Linked DNA regions of Homo sapiens: region 2 is linked to region 1. Evidence: fine-mapped expression QTL. A gene starts in region 1. The other region holds a variant in brackets. All regions are shown on one strand. Distances are between the middles of the regions.

The links. PIP is the estimated chance that this variant, and not a neighbour inherited with it, causes the effect. A credible set is the group of variants that fine-mapping cannot tell apart.
Region 2: its variant is the best candidate, but not a certain one, in a credible set for the expression of H2AZ2 in thyroid (GTEx, PIP 0.61).

What each region holds. Positions count from the first base shown.
Region 1 is chr7:44,843,261-44,853,291 of GRCh38, reverse strand. H2AZ2 (H2A.Z variant histone 2) reads left to right here and starts at 5,205. Exons shown (of 5, transcript NM_012412.5): 1 at 5,205-5,323; 2 at 9,938-10,015. The coding sequence starts at 5,321. It overlaps H2AZ2-DT (H2AZ2 divergent transcript), which reads right to left and starts at 4,821. Exons shown (of 2, transcript NR_187581.1): 1 at 4,771-4,821; 2 at 3,727-3,833. RefSeq lists silencers at 4,870-4,929, 5,190-5,579 and enhancers at 4,506-5,064, 5,065-5,622.
Region 2 is chr7:44,890,090-44,900,120 of GRCh38, reverse strand. No RefSeq gene overlaps it. Among named protein-coding and RNA genes, the nearest start is that of PURB, 9.6 kb to the right of the region's middle. The variant T/C (reference allele first, on the strand shown) is at 4,018.

The DNA.
Region 1 (10,031 bases):
AGGCGCCCGCCACTACGCCCGGCTAATATTTTGTATTTTTAGTAGAGACGGGGTTTCACCGCGTTAGCCAGGATGGTCTCGATCTCCTGACCTCGTGATCTGCCTGCTTCGGCCTCCCAAAGTGCTGGGATTACAGGCGTGAGCCACCGCGCCCGGCTTATTTTTTTTATTTTTCACAGAGATGTGGGTCTCACTATGTCACCCACACTGGTCTCGAACTCCTGGGCTCAAGCGATCCTCCTGCCTTAACCTCTAAAGTGCTGAGATTACAGGCATGAGCCACTGCACCAGGGGAGTCTTTTCACTGTATACCCTTTGTACATTTTGAAATTTTGTACGTGTGAATATCTTGCCTACTCAAAAATTGACTACATTTTTGCAGAGAAAAGTCATTGTCTTAGTTCAGGTTTCCCAGGAAACAAATGGGATTTGCTTTCAAGAGGTAATAGTATGGAATGCTCTTGGGGACATTACTAGGAGAAAATAGAGGAAGTAGGATTACGCAGAAGTTGAACTTCAATGCAGTTAGATCAAGTCAAAACTAATCACACAAGAAACTCTGGAGCTGGAATGGCCCTTCAGAATTGTCTCAAATTAAGGCAAAAGAGCTAGGCACTATATCCTACATCCACCAGTCACTGGAGGTAGGCCCCCTAAAAAGGAGTGTAAACTTGGGCGATACAGCTTCCTTTGGCCAAGTCCAATTCCTGGGTAGAGATCCCTGAGTAATGATCAGTCAACACTTCCAGGAGCTAAATAAGTGCTCCAGTTTTTTTGTTTTTGTTTTTTTGAGACAGAGTCTTGCTCTGTTGCCCAGGCTGGAGTGCAGTGGCGTCATCTCGGCTCATTGCAACTTCCACCTCCTGGGTTCAAGTGATTCTCCTGCCTCAGCCTCCCAGAGTAGCTGGGACTACAAGCGCATGCCACTACACCCAGCTAATTTTTGTTTTAGTAGAGATGGGGTTTCACCATGTTGGCCAAGCTGGTCTGGAACTCCTGACCTCAGGTGATCTGCCCACCTCAGCCTCCCAAAGTTCTGAGATTACAGGGATGAGCTACCACACCTGGCCAAGTGCTCCAGTTTTATAAGGAATACGTGGGCTCTGGACTGTGCACTGCAGCATATACTATACCAGTGGTTCTTAAATTTCAGTATGCACCAGAATCCCCTGGAGCGCTTGTAGGTCCCACCCTCAGTGTCAGATTCAGCAGGTCTGGGGTGGTGGTGAGAATACATTTCTAACAAGTTCCAAGTGATGCTGATGCTGGTGGTCTAAGGATCACACTTTGAGAACAATTATACTATATATTACTGGGTTAAATCCAGCAACATTGAATAATTTTTTTTTTAGAGATACAGTCTGGTTCTGTTGCCTGTCTGGTGAGCAGTGACACAATCATACATAGCTCACTGCAGCCTTGAACTCGTGGGCTCAAGTTCTCTACCCACCTCAGCCTCTCAACTAGCTGGGATCACAGGCATGTGCCACACACTCAGCTAATTTTTTTCTTTTAATTTTTGTAGAAGTGGAGTCTTGCCATGTTGCCCAGGCTGGTCTCAAACTCCTGCCCTGGTGACTCATGCCTTGGCCTCCCAAAGCTTTAGGATTACAGGCATGAGCTACCATCCCCAGCCCAAAGTTGAATAATTTGTCAATGTTTGTAGTTTATCATTTATAGATGCTAATACATAACATTTTCTGGTTAGACTGGTGTTCTTCATGAGCTCATCTTTGCCTTTTTTGTTACCCTAGTTCACTAGAAACTAAATTTTACTAACACACTTGGTTTATAAAACTGTTAGTAGGCAGACTTTTTTCTGGCATCTGTGTTTACAGTGATGATATAATTTAGTGATGATATATAAATCAGTGAAAGGATTACTATTATCTACAATGAGAACCAGTCTTTTTCAACCTAACTCCACTTTCATCAAAATCTGAATCAATGACATGAAGGCTGAGGGGTAGAGAGTGGTGAGAAAATGATTTTCCTGTTAAGGAAGGAAGTTAACATTTATTGGATATTATGTGCTAGGTACAGTGCTAGGTGCTTTCTCATACATTATTGGACACTTCTTTCAGCCCCCCTTCACAAGGGCAACTCTTCTTTTTTTTTTTTTTTTTGAGATGGAGTGGAGTCTTGCTCTGTCGCCCAGGCTGAAGTGCAGTGGCGCAATCTTAGCTCACTGCAGCCTCCGCTTCCCAGGCTCTCCTGGGCCCAGGTGATTTTCCTGCGTCAGCCTCCTGAGTAGCTGGGAATAACAGGCATGCGCCACCACGCCTGGCTAATTTTTGCATTTTTAGTAGAGACAGGGTTTTGCCATGTTGGCCAGGCTGGTCTCGAACTCCTGACCTCAGATGATCCACCCACCTTGGCCTCCCAAATTGCTGGGATTACAGGAGTGAGCCACCACGCCCAGCCTGCATGCTCTTTGTGGACCACCCACACCAGCTAAACTACATTCCCTGTTTCTCTCTTAAAGCACCCTGTTCTTTTCCTTCAGCACACTTGAACTTATTATAATTCACATATGGTATTTGTTTATTTCTTTAACATCTGACTCCCGCTGCAGAGGACCACAAGGGCAAGGACAATGTCTATTTTGCTAATCACCAAATCCTCAGTACCTAGCACAGTGCCTGCAAACAGTAGGCACTGAGTGATTTGTTAAAGGAATAACTCACAGGCTTATGCCTTGGTAGATTGGTAATGCCATCCACTGAGGCCAGAAACACAGAGGAGCAGGAATTAACAATGGCTATTTTTACTGAAGTAACTCCACTCTTCTACCTAGTTTTGAGGCTTCTATTAATCTGGGCACATTGCTCCATTCCTTCCTATTTCACTGGACACCCTTCCTCACACTTGTCTGTACCTTCATCCGTATTTTTCCAAATTCTTACTTAGAAGCTCACCCTCTTCCTCTTCTTGAATTTAAGTTACCTTTTTTTAAAGACTCACTTCCCCAAAGTTGCTTCTCCTGATTCAAACTTTGGAACAGCTATCATCAGCCTGGATATAAATTTCTAAAGTGCCAGCCTGGGAAAATCCTATGACAACAGAATCTCCACTAAGGCAGAAACTTGTTTTTTTCACTATTAACTCACCAACACCAAGAACACATTCTAGCACAGTCAATGCATCATACTGTGAAAAGAATGAAAGAATTTAAAGCTGGAATGAGTTGGAACAAATGTGAGCTGGTATCTTGGTTATCTACAGGCTATGCGGTCTCAGGCAAATGACTAAGTTCACCTAAGCCCATTTCTTCAGTTATGAAATGAAGCTGGCTCTCCCAGAAAGCTCATATTGTCCAGACTGTAATAGAGATGATCATGATAGGGTGATGGGCCTTTTTTAATTGTGGAAACAGGCCAGGCGCGGTGGCTCACGCCTGTAATCCCAGCACTTTAGGAGGCTGAGGCGAGAGGATCACTTGAGGTCAGGAGTTCAAGACCAGCCTGGCCAACATGGTGAAACCCTATTTCTACTAAAAATACAAAAACTAGCGGGGAATGGTGGTGGGAGCCTTTAGTCCCAGCTACCCAGGAGGCTGAGGCAGGAGAATCGCTTGAACTCAGGAGGCGGAGGTTGCAGTGAGCCCAGATCACACCACTGCACTCCATCCAGCCTGGGCAACAGAGTGAGACTTCATCTCAAAAAGTAAATAAATAAATAAATTGTGTTAACACTGTGGAAGAAAAACGATCGCTGGAGAGCCTGTGCACTCACATACATCCTTTAATTTTTACAACAGCTTCCGGGGGAAGGCGATTCCACTTTAGAGCTTTTCTTCCTTTCTAGCTGGGAGTTATCCTCCAAATTTTAACCTAATGATGTAAGCAAAATAAACACACTGAAGAGGTTGAGAAAAGAAAAACGGCTCACAACAGTCTGAGCTCTGTGAGGTCTGCAAAATGTATTAGGCCTAGAGGGACATGAGTATGGGACTTCGGTTATGCCCACCCTCTGCCCCCACATACACACATACCCAATCCCATGCATACCCAATTGTTTAAAGTCATTTCATTCCTGACTATCGGCCTCATCCATTACCTTTTTTTTTATTATTATTTTTTAGACAGGGTATATTCTGTCTCCCAAGCTGGAGTGCAGTGGTGCGATCATGACTCACTGCAGCCTCGACCTCCTGGGCTCAAGAGATCCTCCTGTCTCAGTCTTGACAGTAGGTGAGGCTACAGGTTCGCGCCACCAAGCCGGCCCCATTATCTTCGTGTTCTTAGAATTTGTAATACATGCCGGGCGCGGTGGCTCACGCCTGTAATCCCAGTACTTTGGGAGGCAAAGGGGGGCAGATCACCTGAGGTCAGGAGTTCGAGACCAGCCTGACCAACACGGAGAAACCCCGTCTCTATTAAAAATACAAAAGTTAGCTGGGCATTGGGGCGCGCGCCTGTAGTCCCAGGACTCCATCTCTAAAAAAGGAAAAAGAATTTGTCATACAAATAACAATATGTAGCCAATTGATAGCTTTTGTTTTTGTTTGTTTGTTTTGAGACGATGCGTCGCCCAGCTGGAGTGCAGTGGCGCGATCTCGGCTCACTGCAACCTCCGCCTCCGGGGTTCAAGCGATTCTCCCGCCTCAGCCTGCCGCGGACCTTGTCAGGGTCCGCGCTGAGAGGACGTCAGGGTAGTCAGTCCGCCAGAATACGGCTGAGCATGAGGCCTGCCTAACCTTGAAACCCAGCGCCCTCCTGATCCACACGTTCTAAGACGAATAAATCCTCACAGTCTGTGAAAACCCACCAGGAGAAGCACGTCCAACACTCTTTACCTCCCCAAACAAGTCTCAGAAGCGGGAAAACCAACGCCGCGAATGGGCGGGAAAGCCACAGCGCCTGCAATCGCTTCACCTTATTAGCTAATTTTGCTGTCCTTCCCAGTGGCCCGCCTCCCTTGCTCGCGGGCGATATTTTTATTGGCTTTCGTCTGCGAGGCGTCCAATCTCATTGGTTTGCCTTTCTGTTCGTCAGGCTTGGGCGCCTGGTGAAAGGCAGAGAGCGCGTCACTATTGGGGCTGGAGGCCCCGCCTCCGCGTGCCGTGTGCAAAAACAAACAGCCGTTAGGAAGGCGGTGCCGGGGGGGCGGGGTCTGGCTAGAAGGAGGCGCGCGATTGAACAGCCGCTGGGGTTCGAACCAGCAAGACAAGCGGGCATTGGCCACAGCAGCGCGAGGCGGGCACGGGGTATTGTCCGGCTCCGGCGGCGGCGGTCGGTGCTGCGAGAGCGGCGGCGGCGGCGCGGGTCGGCAGCGGGAGGGCGCGCGGCCGAGCGGAGGCGGAGTCGGCGCCGAGAACATGGTAAGGGCGGCCGGGTGGGCCGGGGGCACGGGGCCTGGGAGAGCAGAGCGCGGAGGCCCTGGCGTCGGCGCCGCTACCTGTGGAGTCGGGAGTTTGCGGGTGTCTGGGCTTCGTCCGGCCGAGCCCCTCGCCGCCCGCCGGGGGGCGCCATGTCCCAGCTGCGGAGCCCGACACGGGTCCCCGGGTGAGAGCTGGGCCTGGCCGGGTAGAGCGCGAAGTCTGTTCCGAGCCGGATAGATCTGTCCCGACGCTTGTGACGCTGCACCGCCCGTCTTAGAAGGAGGAGGACGGCAGAATCCGGCTTGGAAATGTAGAAACAAGTGCTGGATCTTAATGTGATCGCTTCTCTGTATGAATGAGGTCAAACAGGCTGCCGCTGTACAAGTTAGATAAGTCTTTGGCGATGTTTGGTTACGTAATCTCCCTGGCAGTCAGTTTGAGGGTTTCTGCGAAAGGGTGCTTGTATTTGTGGTCTTTTGAGCGACAAAGAATGGTTTTATAGACCAGAACCACACGATTTGTTCTAGGTGATTGCACAGGTTAGAAATGAACGCCCGTTATCTTCTGAGCCCCTTGCAGTTTGCGGTTTTCATTATACAACAGTACTTTCCTTTGCCCTTGCTATGGATTTTCAGTCTTAAAGTATTCATCTTTTCATTCTGAAATTCAGATCTAGATAAGAAGAGTGTGGCTTTAAAAAAATGAAAGTGAATAGAACTTCAGCCCCATTTTAAAGTTGAGGGGAAAAGAGAAGGTGCTAAAGGATACGCTCTGAGTTGCATCAAAGATTGTGTAAAAATAATAAGACTGTTATGGAATCTTATTTTTGCCGGTATTCGTGCTTTAAGCATTCTGTTGAAAGGTTACTTCAACGGGAGCTACCTGCTTAAAAGTTAGCACCAAGCTGTCATTTATCATACTGCAGATAGTATTAGATGATTTGTCTTGTGCTTGATGTGACAGATATGGTATTGAATAGACATAACACCTAACTGTAAACAGATTGGCCAGTCGAGAGGACAATGTTTGGTTATTGTAAAATACCCAAATCTTAGAGCTGGAATAGACTTTAGGGATAATTGCTTCCAACGTCTAACGTATAGTTTATTGTTATTGTAAAAAACCCAAATCTTAGAGCTGGAATAGACTTTAGGGATAATTGCTTCCAACGTCTCACGTATAGTTTATTGTTATTGTAAAGTACTTTATAGTACTTTATCAAACTGAGGTACAGCTTACATCTAATCTGTAAAAGGATTTGCTCAAACAGATGATTTTCATGATTCTAGTTTTTTGTGGTTTTTTTTTTTTTTGGTTTTTTGTTGTTTGTTTTTTGTGGTTTTTTGTGGTTTTTTTTTTTGAGACGGAGTCTCACTCTGTTGCCAGGCTGGAGTGCAATGGGCGATCTTCACTCACTGCAACCTCCGCCTCCCGGGTTCAAGCGATGCTCCTGCCTCAGCCTCCCGAATAGCTACAGGCGTGCGCCACCACGCCCTGCTAATTTTTTGTATTTTTAGTAGAGATTGGGTTTCACCATGTTGGCCAGGATGGTCTCGATCTCTTGACCTTGTGATCCGCCCCCCTCGGCCTGACAAAGTGCTGGGATTACAGGCGTGAGCCACCGCGCACGGCCAATTCTAGTTTTTCAGATATTTTTCAATCTCTAGTGATACGCTATATGTTTTATATCCACTTACCAGTAGCTAAAAATACATAAGTATTAACATAAGCTAAAAATGCAGGAGACATTGAGTTGTCGTTCTTGATAGATTTTAAACCTGAGAGGAAGTAAGCAGATGTCTGTTAAAACTGACATGAAAGTGTCTTAGTATCCAGTTTGCAAGTTTATCCAAGTAAAATGAACGAACTCCTACTTCCTCCTCTCTCTCTCTCTCTGTCTCTCTCTGTGTGTGTGTGTGTGTGTGTGTGTGTGTGTGTGTGTGTAATTTTTTAAAACCAACAACCTTAACTCAGGTTAATACGAAGTCAGTTCTTGGAATTAAAAAATTTAGATTTGGGTTCTCAAGCACCAATTATATTAAAATGAATGTTCAAAGTAGGGAGGCTATATATACAGTTTGAGGGGATATCGGAAAGAAAGTAATTATCCATTTATTGTATAGTTTTATATTCAGATAAGTTTGATACCATAAAAGTTTTCTTTTGTTAAGTATGAGAAATGTATCAGGAATCTCTAAATGTTGGAAATAGTCATTTAATGGATTGAGGCTTTTAAAACCTGACTGTATGTCTACTTCCTTAAAAAGCAAATAGAACACCAAATATGACATATCTGAAACAGTGAGGATAAAATTGCTTAAGCAGAGTAGTTATTATATGACCTGGGGAGCCTGGGGAATTTTGTAGTTGTTGGCTTTTTATTAGTGACTACTTCTTATTTTTTCCAATCCAGTCATAGGAAGACAGTGATTATAATTTTAGATGCCAGTTGAGAGGTTTTTAAGTGTTATATATTAGGGCAAATGGAGGTAACAAGGGTTTTTTATTTGAGAAGTAAGTAAGACTGTCTTGTTAGTGGAGCTGACCTCAAAAATCCAAAAATTGTATTTTTCTTATATAACAACATAGTCAAAAATTATTAAAATATGAGGCATTCTGGTAGAAATAGAGAGCGTCTCAGTTCTTACTGGTAAACTTAAATCAGTCTCTTGTTGAATTACCTAATATAAGAGAGTGAATATGAATTAGTTCTTAGATTTTTATTTTTCCTGTTTCTGATACCTGCCAGGGTTTTACTGTTTTTCTTCCATATTATCTTGGGTGACACGCACTTAATCCACTTAGACGTGCAATTAGAGGAAGTATACAGGGGTAATTTTTAGCTTTAAAAAATTTTTAAGGAAAGGGTTAGCTACAAAGGGGATATGCCATTTCAAAGCTTACCATCTATTTTGAAAGAATAGCCCCTCAAACAGCCAATCTTGTAAACTGATTTCTTTTTTTAACAGTAAAGAAATAATCTGTTTAAATGGTAAAAGCAAAATATATGAGAGAAAATTAGTTTTCTTAAGTCAGACCTTTAGTATTTCCTCCCGAGAGGCAAATAACATTTCTAATTTATTGTGTCACCTACTAGAAATACATGTGTACACATATACTCTATAATACCCCATATTTACTTAAAAGCTCATTACATTGGCACATACTTTGCCTTTTTCATGCAGAAATAGGTTTTTTTAAAGCGTACAGTTCAGTGGCATTAAGTACATTTATAGTGTGCAACCATCACTGCCTTCTGCCTCTAGAACTTTTTCATCTTCCCAAGTGGAAACTCTACCCATTCAACAATAACTCGGCCAGGCGCAGTGGCTCACGCCTGTAATCCCAGTACTTTGGGAGGATGAGACAGGCAGATCACTTGAGGTCAGGAGTTCAAGACCAGCCTGGCCAACATGCAGAAACCTTGTTGGTACTAAAAATACAAAAATTAGCAGGGCATGGTGGCGCGCACCTATACTACCAGCTACTTAGGAGGCTGAGGCAGGAGAATCACTTGAACCCAGGAGGCAGCTACCCCTGGCAACCACAAATCTGCTTTCTGACCATGAACTTTACTATTTTAGGGACCTCATAAGTAGAATCATACAGTATTTGTCTTTTTTGTAACTGGCTTATTTTCCTTAGCATAATGTCCTCAAGGCCCATTCATGTTGTAGCTTGTGTCAGAATTTCCTTTTTAAAGCTGAATACTATTCCATTATATGTATATCATTTTGTTCATCCATCATTGGACACTCAAGATTGTTTCTACCTTTTGGCTATTCTGAATAATGCTTCTGTGAACGTGGGTATACATGTATTTGTTTGAATCCTTGCTTTCAATTTTTAGGTGTATACCTAGAAGTGGAATTGCTAGACTATATGACAATTCTGTGTTTAATTTTTTGAGGTTTTTTTTTTTTTTCTTGGAACATGCTTTATTTTTCTGAGAGCTAAGTTCTAAATATTTCTGTGGAAGTAATATATGTTACATTGACATTGATAAAAATTGTGAAATATTTCATGTATGCATAAAAGTTATATTGACTTGCAAGATTCTTTAATCTGGAAATTGATAAATATGTTTGTTTTTAAAAATCTCATATTTTTCAGCCTGGCACTGTGGCTTATGCCTGTAATCCCAGCACTTTGGGAGGCCTAGGCGGGCGGATCACTTGAGGTCAGGAGTTCAAGACCAGCTTGGCCAACATAGTGAAACCCACCTCTACTAAAAATACAAAAATTAGCCATGTGTGGTGGTGTGCGCCTGTAATCTCAGCTACTCAGGAGGCTGAGGCAGGAGAATCGCTTGAGCCCAGGAGGTGGAGTTTGCAGTGAGTCAAGGTCGCACCACTGCACTCCAGCCTGGGCAACAGAGCTAGACTCCATCTCAAGAAAAAAGAAAAATATTTTAAATAAGTGTTTAAGGTTTGATTTCTTTGATAGAAATTATAAAAGGTGATAGAATCCCATGTATATTTACAAATGAGGAAGGGGATCACCTACATATTGTTAACTACCTAAAGTAAAACTAGAAAAAATTCTGTTTCCAGAATATTTTTGAAGTAGTATTTTCAACTCTTTTCATTCAAAAAAATTTTTTTTTGCATTTAGGCTGGAGGCAAAGCTGGAAAGGACAGTGGGAAGGCCAAGGCTAAGGCAGTATCTCGCTCACAGAGAGCTGGGCTACAGGTAATGAATCCATGCT
Region 2 (10,031 bases), 47 kb before region 1:
AGGCTAGACACTAATATCTCTGTGTAGCACGCAGCATTCTGAATCATTTACATGTTCTTATTTTGTTTCTTTTCTGAAATTTCAAAATTTTCTACAATAAAAGCATATTTGTCAAAGGAGAACACATTTTTATTTTTTATTTTTTATTTATTTATTTTTTTTGAGATGGAGTCTTGCTTTTGTTGCCCAGGCTGGAGTGCAGTGGCACGATCTTGGCTCACTGCAACCTCTGCCTCCCAGGTTCAAGCGATTCTCCTGCCTCAGCCTCCCGAGTAGCTGGGATTACAGGCGCCCACCACCATGCCCAGCTAATTTTTGTATTTGTAGTAAAAACGGGGTTTTGCAATGTCGACCAGGCTGGTCTCGAACTCCTGACCTCGTGACCTGCCCACCTCAGCCTCCCAAAGTGCTGAGATTACAGGCGTGAGCCACCACGCCCAGCCAAGAACACATTTTTAAATAGGAGAAGAAACATAGTGACATCATCAGGATGTTCTGTTGAAACTCAGTTATGATTGTCTAATGTGCGTTCATTTTCATGTTTAATGAATGGAAAGTTGAAAATTGTGTACTACTTTTCAATTTAATTCCATTAAATATTTAGTGAGTGTTTACAACGAAGATACAAAAATAAGAGATAGTCCCTGACCCTAAGGAGTTTGCAAGTATGCAGGAAAAGAAGACTTCAGAAATAGCTGCATCCTAAGGCAGAACATGGTAAATGCTTAAGAGTATACCAGAGGGCTGTGTGTCTCTGTCCAGAGAGAACTCACCATGGCTCAGAGGCCCTTAGAAGATCTTCATAGAGATTCTAAATAGGCAAGGGACCAATTACAAGGATTTCATGCTAAACTAGACAGTGAAAACGAAAAGAATACAATGGGAAAAAGAGCACTAACAAAATTTATTTTAAATCATTTTTAAAACATTTCAAGAAGTTGAAGGTTTCTTTTTACTTTTTATTTTTACATAATTTCAGACTTTGAGAAAAGTTGCAAGAACAGCACAAAGAATTTCTGTATATGGCTGGGCATGGTGGCTCATGCCTATAATCCTAACACTTTGGAAGGCTGAGGCTGGAGGATCACCTGAGTTCAGGGGTTCAAGACCAGCCTGGCCAACATGGCAAAACTCTGTCTCTACTACAAACACAAAAATTAGCTAGGCGTGGTGGCGCGTGCCTGTAATCCCAGCTACTCGGAAGACTGAGGCGGGAGAATCACCTGAACCCAGGAGGCAGACGTTGCAGTGAGCCGAGATCACACCACTGCACTCCAGCCTGGGCAACAGAGTGAGACTCCGTCTCAAAAAAAATATATAAATAAATAAATAAAATAAAAAGAATTTCTGTATATCCTTGTTAAAAAAAAAAGCTTTAGAAACAAGTTTAACAGTTTATCTGAGTAAATAACAATTCCTGAATCAATTAGCACTCAGAATCAGAAGAGGTTCAGGGCCGGGTGAGGTGGCTCATGCCTGTAATCTCAGCACTTTGGGAAGCCGAGGCAGGCACATCACAAGGTCAGGAGATAGAGGCCATCCTGGCTAACACGGTGAAACCCCGCCTCTACTAAAAGCACAAAAAATTAGCCAGGCATGGTGGTGGGCGCCTGTAGACGCAGCTACTCGGGAGGCTAAGGCAGGAGAATGGAGTGAACCTGGGAGGCGGAGCTTGCAGTGAGCCAAGATTACGCCACTGCACTCCAGCCTGGGCGACAAAGCCAGACTCCATCTTAAAAAAAAAAAAAAAAAAAAAAGGAGAGGTTCAGGGACCTCTGCCTGGCAGTGAACAGTGAGCTTTTATAGGCTGAACACAAAAATAAAGAAATCACTTGATTGGCTACAGCCAGGCATCTGCCTTATTTGGGCATGGTATGATGAGTTGGCGGCCTGTCATTTGCTGAAGCTTGGCTGTTGTGATTGGCTGAAATCTGGCTATTTATTACAAAAAACATACTCTTAAGTTTTGGTTTCTTTATATACTAAGTTAGGTTGCATTGTATTATGCCGGAATTCAAAAAACAGAGACAGCCTCAGGCTAATGGCCTCCTGCTTATTTAAATTTTTTTGGAGACAAGGTCTCACTCTGTTGCCCAGGCTGGCCTGAGCTCAAGTGGTCCTCCCACCTCGGCCTCCCAAAGTGCTGGGAGTACAGGTGTGAGCCACCACACCCAGCCAGCATATTTAATTTAACACCCTTTACCATTCTCCAACTGTTAATACTTTCCCACGTTTGCTTTATCATTCTCTGTGAATGTGTATGCCTTTTTCTGAATGAGTGTAAATTGCAGCAATTATGTCTCTTTCATTTCTAAATACTTCAGTGTGTATTTCCTAAAAACAAAGATATTACCTTACATAACCAAAGTACAATTATCAAAATCAGGAAATTAACATTAACACAGTGTTATTATCTGATTTACAGACCTTAATGTTTGTTATGGCAAAGAAGAGCCCAAACACATACTGTCATTACTTCTCTTAATTTTCCTTTAATCTGAAACCATTCTTCAGTTTTTCTCTTTCATGACACTGACATTTTTGTAGTTATTTCATAGCCTGTGGTTTTGTGGAATTTCCCCCAATGTGAGTTTGTCTGCTATTTCCTCCTGATGAGACTCAGGTTTTGCATTTTGTGTGGAAATACTAAAGAAGTGATGCTATGTCCTTCTTGGTGATCGTATCAGGAGGTTCATGATGCCCATGTGTCCCATTTCTGCTGCTGTTAACTGTGATCACTGGGATAAGGCAGTGAATGCCAGGTTTATCACTGTAGAGTTGCTAATTTTCCTTCTGTAATTAATATGTACTTCTGGGGAGACTATGTAATTTTTTTTTTTTTTGAGACAGAGTCTCACTCTGTCGCCCAGGCTGGAGTGCAGTTGCACAATCTCAGCTCACTGCAACCTCTGCCTCCCAGGTTCAAGCGATTCTCCTGCCTCAGCCTCCCGAGTAGCTGGGATTACAGGCACGCGCCACCATGCCAAGCTAATTTTTTTGTATTTTTAGTAGAGATGGGGTTTCACCATGTTGGTCAGGTTGGTCTCAAACTCCTGACCTCGTGATCCACCCACCTCGGCTTCCCAAAGTGCTGGGATTACAGGCGTGAGCCACCACGCCTGGCCAATGTATATATTTTTACTCAGCAAACTTTAACCCACTGGTTTCAAATTCCATCATTTTTCCCATATTTATCATGTGGCATTCTATTATAAGGAAGAACGATTCTTGCTCTCATTTATTTATGTATATCAGCACGTATACATGAATCCTTATTTTATTCAGTAGCTGATATTCTCTTGCTATTATTATTTATTTCATGATTAAATTGTCCCAGATTTAGCCAGCAGGAGTGTCCCTTTGCCTGTTGCTATCATTATTTATTTCAAGACTAAATTGTCACAGATTTAGCCAGCAAGAGTGTCCCTTTGACATGTCCCCTCGTTTTTTTGTTTTTTTGTTTGTTTTGTTTTGTTTTTTTGAGAGAGTCTCACTCTGTCGCCCAGGCTGGAGTGCAGTGGCACAATCTCGGCTCACTGCAAGCTCCGCCTCCCGGGTTCACGCCATTCTGCTGCCTCAGCCTCCTGAGTAGCTGGGACTACAGGCGTCCGCCACTATGCCCAGCTAATTTTTTGTATTTTTAGTAGAGACGGGGTTTTACCGTATTAGCCAGGATGGTCTTGATCTCCTGACCTCGTGATCCGCCCGCCTTGGCCTCCCAAAGTGCTGGGATTACAGGCATGAGCCACTGCACCCGGCCATCCCTCCTTTTTTTAAAGACTTACTTTCTGACACAAGATATTCCAGGCTCAATTTATGTTTTCTCTTCTCTAACCCAAAATCAGTCATTTCTCCAAGGAGCTCTGGTTCCTTTTAGAGCATGGTATCAACAAACCAAGATCTGGGTCCCAGTTGTGCTTGTTCCCCCCGAGGCCATCATTGCTTCTAGCACACATACATGTGTTCAAATATACACGCACCCATACCTATGTGGCCGTGTGTATTTCTATATCTGTA[T/C]GCATATGAATTTGCATATGTATGTATTTCTATATCTGTCTGCATGAGTGTGAATTCGCTTATGTGTGTACTCCCATATCTGTGTGTAAATATGCATATGTGTATTTTTTTTTTTGAGACAGGTCACTCTGTTGCCCAGGCTGGAGTGCAGTGGCGCGATCTCAGCTCACTGCAACCTCTGCTTCCTGGGTTCAAGTAATTCTCCTGCCTCAGCCTCCCGAGTAGCTGGGATTACAGGCATGCGCCATGACACCCAGCTAATTCTTTTTGTATTTTTAGTAGAGACTGGATTTTGCCATGTTGGCCAAGCTGGTCTTGAACTCCTGACTTCAAGTCATCTGCCCACCTCGGCCTCCCAAAGTGCTGGGATTGCAGGCGTGAGCCACTGCGCCCAGCCAAATTTCTATATCAATCTCTGTGTGTGTGTGTGCATGTAATGAAATCATGAGCTCCTACCAATATCTCTAAATCTAATCCAACCATAAGGTTTGTCCTAATCTTCCCTCTTTCTGTATTTTAACTTCCTTCAGTTAAAGATGTTTTTAAAGGTCATGGATATAGTTCAGGCTGTTATCATTAATGACAGCATCCAGAAACCCTGCCCCTCCATCACATGGCCTTGTTTTGTGCTCAGCACAGACTTGGGCATTGTCCAGCCTGTGCGAGACCCTTGCTCTAATCAGGCAGAAGGGCAGACGGAGTAACCAGGCAGGGGTCTGGTTCTGAGCCAGAAGGCCCTTCTGGAAGGTTCAGGGGAGGCAGAAATAGAATCCCCAGGAAATGAGGGGTTCCAGTGGAGCAGGGGGAGCGCTAGGATTTTCTGAGTGAGATGAGAAGCAAGAACAGATGGGCTGTTGGCTGTCTCCACAGAAAGACCACAAGTGACCTATGGGCGCTTGGAAAGGTCAAACCTGTTCCCCACAGCAGCTGGGACCAGAGCCCCTGACTGGAGGCTTTGTTGGCACAACAGCTGGCCCTGGCCAGGGGTCAGGGGCAGCTGGGAGTCTAGGAGGAGGCTTCTCATACTCAGCTGTTGGCTGAGAGACAGGGCATGAAGGGCAGAAGCCACCCCACAGAAGGCCATGTGTGTAAGTCCTTCCCCTATTGTTTCAGGATATAAATGAGTGGGTTCAAACACCAGTGACCCTGGTTATGACTGCCTCAGACCTGCTTATTCATCACCAGCTGATATGCTTTCCAACCACTATGTTCCTAGGCATCCTGTTCCCTTGAAGATCATTGCATTTGGGGGTTTCAACTCCCTCATCCAAGTACATCTGTGTTTTATTTGCAGGTTCTCTCCACCCAACATTAGCTGAAACCAGTAGAGTCTTATAGAATATGGAGCCAGCCAGGAGATTTATGGAGAAAGCTCAACCATATTCATGAATAACATCAATAACAGCAGCAACATATTTGAGCATGGATGTACCAAACACATCCACAAGTGGCCTGCACACAATACCTTCCTTACTGCTCAGGCAGCTCTGTAAGGTGCAAGTGCCTGCCCTCCAGGAGGGCATGACCCACAGAAGTGAAGTAACTTGTCCCAGGAACACTGGGCAGTGAAGGTTTGGAATGTTTCAAGGCTCCAGTTTTTTGTTTGTTTGTTTGTTTGTTTGTTTGTTTGAAACAGAGTCTTACTCTGTCATCCAGACTGGAGTGCAGCGGCACAATCTCTGCTCACTGCAACCTCTGCCTCCCGGGCTCAAGCAATTCTCCTGCCTCAGCCTCCCAAGTAGCTGGGATTACAGGTGCCCATCACCATGCCCGGCTAATTTTTGTATTTTTAGTAGAGACGAGGTTTCACCGTGTTGGCCAGGTTGGTTTCAAACCCCTGACCTCAAATGATCCGTCTGCCTCTGCCTCCCAAAGTGCTGGGATTACAGGCGTGAGCCACACGCAGGGCCTCAAGGCTCCAGTCCTTTAACATATCAATCTTCCAGGGGCTCATGAGGCCCCCAGGGAGCACTAGGTGAGTGCAGACTCCACAGGGCACAGCAACTGTGCCTAACGCAGCTTCCCAACCTCTGGGCGTGCCAGAAGAGGAACTACAAATCATGGAGGGCAGCTGATTTGATTGATAAGCCCTGAGGCTGAGAACTCCGCTTCCTGGAACCCAATACTAACACAAGGAATTGATTTTCTACCTTACATAAGACAAAAATCCCCAGAATAAACGGCAGGTGTGGGCCTTCTGCCCAGAGCCAGAATTAGGCAATCTCTTTAGACTGTGCAAGATGCACAAACTTCCTTTCAGCCACACAAATCCAAAAAACATCACTGGAGGCTTCAAAGCAAGCCAGCTGGATACTTGGCCCAGAGTGTCAAGCTGCAAAGCATTTGCAGCACGGGGTGCCTGGCCTGGGAATCTCAGTGTCAGCACCCGCTAGGATGGCATATCCTGGACACCAGTTTCTCCTAACTGTCATCTTGTCTTGTTCCCTCTAGTTCAGTTTAATGCCTGATGGGCAGGAAAGGCAAAGAAGACTGCAGCTTCTAAGCAGCTCAAAGCAGGAGGGCCCAGGAAGCACATATGCAGTCTCCATCCATCGCAATCCCCTTTTGACCATCCCCAAGCTCTCCTGCCAGCCTGTCCCTGACCCTGGGACCTTCAACCATCTCCTCGTCCTCTTCTCAGCATCAGGCACAACAGGCAACGTCTCACTCACTACGGGAAGTTGAGCCAGCCAGGACGTGAGGAGTTTTCAGATTGTGGTCAGGAAGCACTCCCGGCAAACACAAATGGGGACAAACTACAAAATAATCGGCCTTCATATTTCAAAATGTCACTCATGTGAAAGACAAAGAGAGACCCAGGGATGGCTCCAGATTAAAGAGAGTGGGGTAGCTGGGCGCGGTGGCTCACATCTGTAATCCCAACACTTTTCGAGGCCAAGGTGGGCAGATCACCTGAGGTCAGGAGTTTGAGACGAGCCTGGCCAATATGGTGAAACCCCATCTCTACTAAAATTACAAAAGTTAGCCGGGCATGGTGGCACACACCTGTAATCCCAGCTACTCAGGAGGCTGATGCAGGAGGGTCGCTTGAACCTAGGAGGTAGAGGTTGCAGTGAGCCAAGATAGCGCCACTGTACTCCAGCCTGGGTGACAGAGTGAGACTCTGTCTTAAAAAAGAAGTGGTGGTTGGGGGTGGGCCTGTGGCAGTTAATGCTGCAAAAGTCTCCTTTGCTGTAGAGGATGCAATCAAGACACTTGGTGAAATCTGAATAATAAAGTCTGCAGATTAGACAACATTGTCAGATCTGTGCTGGTTTCTCGATTTTGATTGTTGTGCTCTAGATAGGTGAGAGAATGACCTTGAATAGACACTGAAGTGTTTAAAGGTAAGTGGTCATCATATTTCAGTTTATTCTCAAATGGTTCAGGAGAAAGAAAAATGTCAAATAGCGTGTGTGTGTGTGTGTGTGTGTGTGTGTGTGTGTGTGTGTGTAGAGACAGAGATGAAGAAACATAAAGATGAAAAGCGTAATGACACAAACACCGTGATGTTAACATTTTGGGGAATCTGTGTGAAGAATACTATTATTGCAGCTGTTCTGTAAGTTTACATTTTAAGTTTAAAAGGAAGGCCGAGCTCATGCCTGTAATCCAACTTTGGGAGGCCAAAGCGGTTAGATTGCTTGAGCTCAGGAGTTCGAGACCAGCCTGGGCAACATGGCAAAACCCCATCTCTACAAAAAATATTTTAAAAATTAACTGGGTGTGGTAGCACATGCCTGTAATCCCAGCTACTCTGGGAGCTGAGGTGGGAGGATTGCTTGAGTCCAGGAGGCAGAGGCTGCAGTGAGCAGAGATCACGCCATTGCACTCCAGCCTAGACAACCGAGCGAGAACATGTCTCAAAAATAAACAAGTAAAAAGTCTACAAGGAAAAGCAATGAGGGAAAAAAGGCGTGCCCACCCTGCAATGTGCAAACCCTTCCTCATTCTCCAGGCCTGGTTCTCCTGAATGCCCAGCTTTGTCTGCCCATGGCTGGCCATCTGAGGCTACTGTCCCCAGGATCTGGCACCCCCACAACCATCTCCCAGCCCTGGCAAGGCCCACTTCCATCTGCTGCCTCCAGCCCAGACTCCCAGCTCCTCCAAGGTGCAGATCTAGCCCATCCTGCTTCTGCCCTAGTCTTGGCCAGGCCCTGGGGCTGTTCAGCAGGCTTTTAGTCCAGCCCAGGCCTCACAGGTCTTTGCAGCCTCCTCCTTAGTGTGGCCTCACTCTTAGGCCCTTTCACCAAGAACTCCTCCAACTTCCCTCCTCTCCACTGGAAGCTCCAGTATCTCCTTTTCTCTCCTTGATCTCAGAAGAAAAAGGATGCCTTCTCATGTTCTAGGACCCAATTCCTTTCCTGAGTGCCCAACTTCTGTGCCTACTCCAGGCCTCACTGAGAGGCTTCTGTCATGACCCCTCAGCACCCCTCTCCTCTCCTCAGCCTCAGAGCTGGCTCAGGTTTCTCTGGGGTAAAACAGCCTTCATCCTGCCTTCCTTTGCCAGTACCCATCTTTTGTCACCTTCTGCCACATGAAATACCTCCTCAATCTACACTTCCTGCCCCTGCATTTACTTGTGAGCGTTCTGACATCTGGCTTCCATCCCCTGGGGCCCCAAAGTGACACAGTGTCAGAGACACAGAATTTAGAATCAGAAGACTCGAGTTCCAGTCTCTGCTCCACCTCCTAAGAGCTGGGTGATTTGTGATGTGTTTCCAAAACTTGTGGGAAGCCCAAGTACATAGTTCATATACAGCTCACTATGAACTATCACCTGTGACCTCACAGTCTTCTGACCCCTTGGCCTTTCTCTCTCCTCATCCTCTTCATCTTTCCCTGATTTCCCCACACAACCCTCTCTGAGCCTGATGTCCACTCCACCTGTCTGCTGGTGGCTCCCAAACCTGCATCTCTGTTACTTGCCTCTTTTCTGGACTCTGATTCTCTGAGTTCCAGAGACACTTGGAAATATCCTCTCAGGCATTCGGCCAGCTCCTCAAATTTAACATGCCAACAGTGAGATCCATCCTCAATTACGCTCAAATTGCCAAAAAGCAGTCAAAGCAGGGACTCAAGGCCACTAAGAAGTAAAAAACTTCTGAGGAAAGTATTTGATATTCCAAAAATGCATCAAAGCAGCTCATCCTGTTATGTGCCATGTATTGTGAATTACACAGGGGAGAAGTACCTAACATCTGCAGCAAGGGGAACTGTGAAAGCCTCAATTCAGTGTTTGATATCATCTTCATCTAAAGAGTTCATCCTCTTAGCCTTATTTTGCTAAGGTTAGCCTTGGTCCCTCATCATCTGAGCACCTACTTCAAAATAATCCTCGGCCAGGCACGGTGGCTCACGCCTGTGATACCAGCACTTTGGGAGGCCAAGGCCGGCGGATCACAAGGTCAGGAGTTTGAGACCAGCCTGACCAACAGTGAAACCCTGTCTCTACTAAAATTACAAAAATTAGCCAGGTGTGGTAGCACACACCCATAGTCCCAGCTACTCGGGAGGCTGAGGTAGGAGAATCACTTGATCCTGGGAGGCAGGTGGCAGTGAGCCGAGACCGTGCCATTACACTCCAGACTGGGCGAAAGAGTGAGACTCCACCTCAAAAAATAAAATAAAAATAAAAAAATAAAAAATAGGTCAGGTGTTGTGGCTCACGCCTGTAATCCCAGCACTTTTGGAGGCCAAGGCAGGTGGATCATGAGGTCAGGAGTTCAAGACCAGCCTGGCCAAGATGGTGAAACCCCGTCTCTGCTAAAAATACAAAAATTAGCCGGGCACAGTAGTGGGCGCCTGTAATCCCAGCTACTTGGGAGGCTGAGGCAGGAGAATCGCTTGAACCCGGGAGGTGGAGGTTGCAGTGAGCCGAGATCACGCCACTGCATTCTAGCCTGGGTGACAGAGAAGACTGTCTCGAAAATGAAAATAAAAATAAATAAATAAATAAATAATAAAAAATAATAATCCGGCTGGGTGTGGTGGCTCATGCCTGTAATCCCAGC